Linked DNA regions of Homo sapiens: region 1 is linked to region 2. The links come from fine-mapping of genetic effects on gene expression. A gene starts in region 2. The other region holds a variant in brackets. All regions are shown on one strand. Distances are from middle to middle.

Evidence for each region. PIP is the estimated chance that this variant, and not a neighbour inherited with it, causes the effect.
Region 1: its variant is fine-mapped to the expression of TACR1-AS1 in lung (TOPMed, PIP above 0.99).

The regions. Positions count from the first base shown.
Region 1 is chr2:75,185,272-75,188,192 of GRCh38, forward strand. All of the region lies in intron 1 of TACR1 (tachykinin receptor 1), which reads right to left. The region is part of intron 2 of TACR1-AS1 (TACR1 antisense RNA 1); the gene reads left to right. Among named protein-coding and RNA genes, the nearest start is that of TACR1, 13 kb to the right of the region's middle. The variant T/C (reference allele first, on the strand shown) is at 1,533.
Region 2 is chr2:75,152,946-75,155,866 of GRCh38, forward strand. It overlaps TACR1-AS1 (TACR1 antisense RNA 1), which reads left to right and starts at 1,373. Exons shown (of 4, transcript NR_168010.1): 1 at 1,373-1,626. The region is part of intron 1 of TACR1 (tachykinin receptor 1); the gene reads right to left.

The DNA of each region.
Region 1 (2,921 bases), 32 kb after region 2:
TACAGTAAATGAAATTATTTATGCATATTTGCCTACTTTTGAGTTGAGGAAGGTCTTTTTATGCATAATAACAAAGAGAAAGCACAAAAGAAAAGGCAGATAGATATAACAACATAAAATAATATAAAATAATCACTGAAAAAGAAATGAACATTTTAACCTGAAATATAAAAAATTTTTATATCACATGACCATCAAAAGGTTATAGCCTTTAATATAGCCTCAACCTACAGTTTCTGCAATTCAATATGGAATTTAAAAATTAAGATTTAAATTTAAAGCTCTATTAATTCACAAATACAAAGGAATAACAAATATATTAAAATATACTCACTAGTAAGAAGTGCAAACATAACTAACATTTTAATCTTTTAAATTGGAAAAGATTTTTGTAAAATTGTTAGGAATATGGATAAAGGAACACTCCAATATGTTGGATCTATATATTCTGTTTCACACTGCAAATTACTAAAGCTTTCTGAAGAGTGGCTTAACAGAATGAAGCAAAAGGCTTAAGATGGCTAACACTCTGAACAAACAACTTTTCTTCTAAGAATTTATCCTAATAATCATCCATGTGCGCTAGTTTTGCTAAAACACATTGATGACAAATTATATGTTGTAGCAAAATCTCAAAACACCCCCCAGGGTTTAAGCATGAGGGATTATTTAAATTACGATACTTTGTAACCACTTGGCATGATCTTATAGAATAAAGTTTATTACATAAAATATATCTTTATTATGTAAAAGAAAAATAAAATTGTATATGCTATAGGACTATAATTATGAAGATTCTATGCATAGAAAGAAAGTCTTGGGCCAGGCACTGTGGCTCACGCCTGTAATCCCAGCACTTTGGGAGGCTGAGGCGGGCGGATCACGAGGTCAAGAGATCAACATCATCCTGGCTAACATGGTGAAACTCCGTCTCTACTAAAAATACAAAAATTAGCTGGGTTTGGTGGCTCGCGCCTGTAATCCCAGCTACTCGGGAGGCTGAGGCAGGAGAAATGCTTGAACCTGGGAGGCGGAAGTTGCAGTGAGCTGAGATCGTGCCATTTTACTCCACCCTGGGCAACACAGCAAGACTCTGTCTCAAAAAAAAAAAAAAAAAAAAAGAAAGAAAGTCTTGGCATGAAATAATTCCTAAGAATTGACAATAGTGGTGCTTAGGCAGTGAGATGAGCGTTGATTTTACATTTATTTTTCTTCAAACTATTTTTTTGTAAGTTGCTAATTCTCTTTAATAAGTGTGTAATATTTTACGATTTATTTATAATTTAACTATATTAAACTAAATTTAAACTAAAATGTGATCAGAAAAACATTGGAGTTGTGCAGGTAATATTCAATAGTAAGTTATTTTTCTTAAAAAAAAAAAAGGTGGCTTAAGTTCTTACCTAAATGAACAGCCTCAAGAATCCTTTCAGGATCCTTCCAGACTCATCTGCTTAATCAGAATGTTAGTAATTTGCATTTTTTTCTATTGCTGTACTCATCAACTGTTTTATATACAGCAGTTTTTGTTT[T/C]CATCTGTTTCATCTCCATTTTTCAGTCATTGACATTTATTGAAGCTGTGCTATTTTCAAAATGCTGAGGAAGTATTGGGAGGAGATGAAGCAAGGAATTTTTATCCAGGTGTACAGAGAAAAAAAGAAAGGAAAGATGCAGACAAAGAAAAAAGGATGAAAACTTCCAGATGACATGTGGGTCCAGACAGACCCTGGCAGAAAGCCCAGCTCTTGGAAAACTGGCCCTCGCCCCAGGATTTGTAAACAGCACAAATTCACTGATGAAGATGCAGGAGAGGTGAAGAATCTGCTTTGGCCATCTCAGCAGCACTGCCCTGCTGCCCTTAACCCCAACCCACTGGACTGGCTGAGAATATATTCCACAGTCCCTTCTTAACATCCTTCCAGGTTGTAAAGATATTACATATTTATCAAAACAATTAGTGACTTATAAGAAGTCTGAAGAAGACAGAAGCAAATACGCAAACAAATGCAGAGTGCAGTAGCACCTCAGGGCAGAGATAATTCTGCCTGTGACAGGAAAAGATCTTTCAACAGCAGTTTGACAGCTCCTGGTGACAGATCCCCACCACAGTATCCTCCAGCAGACCCCTTGGTGGTATACCTGGGACTATTTTTTGAAAGCCAAACTCTGGATACTTCTGTATTACCTAAACTCCGGCACCTCTTACATTCCACATTGGCACAGTTCCGAGGTCTAAGTTTGTTTTAATTCTCTACAATCTTTCCTGTTCAAGGAGTAGGTAACTAGAATGAACACATTCCCATTTTAAGATACAAATGGGACCTTGGAGGTAGAAAGACGTCCATATTGTTTGTACCGTAGTGTGATTTTAATTAGCTGCTCTTCTCTTGGTTCAACTCAACTTACTAAATTGGATTGGCTGTGAAGGGAATGGAGCAGTAATTTGGGTTCATGCATTTGTGAAGCAGGATTGGGGAGTGCCTCAATGCAGACTGTAGCTGGTTATAACATTATTGGAGGGAAACCAACAAAAACGAGGGAAATAGTATCTGCGCCTTCTTTGCATTCTGCCTAAAGTCTTAGGATCACAGTGTCCTAATTGGATCATTGAAAACCTATGATGGCTTTGATTTGGCAGGTAATCTAGCTGAATCTTTAACACATTAACTTCCAGACCCCTCATCATTCCAGCTGGGAAGAGAAAAGAACTTCAGGAACAAATTTTAAAAATGAAATTTGTTAAATCATGAAAATTCCAATGAAGTTTTCTCTTTTATCTTCCTAGCTCATGTTTGAAGAGCCCAGCTAAGTTGTTGAGCTAACTCGTATTTCAAGCTCAGGGCTGCATTCATTTTGGTTCCCATCACGAATTCTAAAGGCATTTGAAATTTCCCCTTGGCTCCCTGGGACTATTTAGAAGA
Region 2 (2,921 bases):
AGGCTGGAGTGCAGTAGCGCAATCTCGGCTCACTGCAACCTCTGCCTCCTGGGTTCCAGTGATTCTCCTGTTTCAGTTTCCCGAGTAGTGGGACTACAGGCGTGCACCACCACGCCTGGCTAATTTTTGTATTTTTTAGTAGAGATGGGGTTTCACTATATTGGCCAGGCTAGTCTTGAACTCCTGACTTTGTGATCTGCCCACCTTGGCCTCCCAAATTGCTGGGATTACAGGCGTGAGCCACTGCACCAGCCTAAGACTTCTTATAAGAGTTCTTTTAGGCAAAAGCTCAGCAGAGGGCAGGGTAGGAACAATACACAATCACCTTGACTGAGTCTAACAAGATGCTATGGCAAGAAAGCACAGGAATTGTCAGAAATCTTTTCTGAAGGCATCCAAGCCTCAGTGGGATGTTATGAAAGACTGCTTCTCAGAAGATAGTCCTGACACCTAAGTGGGTGACTGAGCTAGAACCAGCTACTCACTTGCTGAGAATTATTGACCTCTCTTGTGAAATGTCAATATTGACTGACTGCACTCTGAGCTGTGCTGTTAAAGGCGTTCAGTTTTACAAGGGAAGCAGAGCATAAGGTCTGATGTCTCTTCCAGATCTGATGACCTAAGATTTGTTTATAGGATCAGGAAAAAAACCCATTAAAATACATCTCTTAATTCTTAGAGTATTATTGAAATTGTGTACAACTTGGAGAGAAGCAATGGCAAAACTTCTGAAATTCACCTGGCACATTCCCTGTTTCCTTCCATGTGGCTGCTAACCCTTTTAAGTTGTGAAGACAGAGGATCCAGGTGGACCAACCAGGGATGCAAAAGGGAGGAGGTGGTTTTAACTCCTGTGTGCAAGGATTTAATTCCTCACGTATCCTCTCTTCCTATTCAAGCTAATTCCAGGTCATCAGTGTACTCTAAGTATTCTAATCAGATTCATTAAATTTTTTTTCCTGGAATCACTGATGGTGGGCAGCACTATTGAGCTTTATTCAGGGTGTGGGACTGAGGTCTCTCCATGAGGCCATTCACTTTTGATAAGGAAACTGGCCTCACTATAGGAGTTCAGTAAAGGCCCAGCTTGCTGGCTCACTGATTAATTGAAGGGCGGGGGTGTGGGGCTTGCTGTGCACAACTAAAGTTCACTTGGATGCCCCCCTCACTGCCCAAAGCAATGCTTGGCCTACAGGAAGCTGAGCCTGCTGCTGCCTTCCTCCCGGCTCCTGGCTCCCTCGGGATCTGAACACTCAGGGTCATGCTGTTGCTGCCCAAGCAGGAAAATCCTGTTTCTGAAAATCCCAAACAACAAACAGCTCCCCTACAGAGCTCATGGGGGAGTAGTCAGAACCTCCAGACTGAGCATGTCACAAGGAAGGACTGCTTTGCTGAAGCCACTCACTCCGGGAGATTTATAATTGGAAGTTTGGCCCAGGGAGATAATCAGCCAAGAGCGCGCACGCACACACACACACACACACACACACACACACACACACACACTCTGAAGAAACCCAGTGGAGATTCAGCACTAACCCACCACACACACACACACACACACACACACACACACACACACTCTCTGAAGAAACCCAGTGGAGATTCAGCACTAACCCAGCACAGGTGAGTGAGAAATTACAACCTGTCAGCCAATGAGCCATGGTGATTCCCTCTGAAGAGGGTTTCCCAGCTATCATTCCCTTTCATCCCCACTGTAAGTTAGGCCCTCGTGCATGTTGCCTGGACTGTGGCTGGAGTCTCCTAACTGTCTTGTCTTCTCTGGGTTTTCTGGCCCCAGGTCTCTCCCTGTCTATCTACCCTGCATCCCTGCTGCTGTTGGAAGAGTCCCCTAAAAGACCTTCTCCACAGCACTGCTTAGCTCCTGGTACTCCCTTATCCCTCCTTTCGGCCCATCCTCTGCCACTGGCTTCCAAGTTCGCATTTGGCCTGCTCCCTACCTCAGTCCTGGGCAGTGAGGCAGGAAGCTGCCTTTCTCCTCCAGATGAGTCTGTGCTCTGCCTCTCTCCTTTGCGTCTCCAAATTCACACTGAGCATGAACATCTCTGACCTCACCTTTTCAAACCAAATGAAAGGGCTGCATAAGGACAACTTAGTTTATTTTGGAAGGCTGTTACACTTTGACCTCCATTTAAAAAACAAACAAAAAAATCTAAAAACCCCAAAACGTTGAGGGACTGTTCCCAAGCCCCAGCATCTTTGCCCCATCCTCAAGCCTTCCAGGACCCTCTCTCCATTCTTGGGATTGCAGCTCCTAACGTAGTTCTCCTCTTCAGCTCAAGGACAATTCTAACTGTCTTCTTGCCTGGTATGGCTTAATGAGCCTCAAGCTCACTTAGCATCATCTGGATTTAATTTCCTCTCTTGCCGTGAGCAACCTTGGCTCATCTTTCTGCCTCTCTTCTCCTCTCCTCTTTTTCCTGTCTCCCCCTCCCTTTGCTTACATGCCCTTCTTCCCCCTTTCTCTCCTCTCTCTATCTCTACCTCTCTAATGTCCACAAGTGCCTCACAACTGCCCCATTCAACCCCCACCTGAGTATCACCAGCTCTTCTGGTCCAGCTCACCTGTAAAATCTCTATTCCATCCAGAGAGGCCACCATCTCCTGTTCTAAGGGTCACATAGCTCAGATACAGACAAACAAGGTCAGGACAACCACCCTCCTGCCTTGGAAAATCACCAATTACCCTCCATTATTATATTTCTTGTGAAGCTACATTTACATTTTATCATATCCACATAACAAGAGAGAGAGTTTTAAAAAGGAGAGTGGTCAAATGTATGTCAAGAGACATAGAAACACTTAGAATAATGTAGACAGAACAGATAGCTGGAGTTATTAGAAGGTTATTGGAGACCATCAAAAAGGAATCAAGATGGTTTAGGATATATTCTATTATT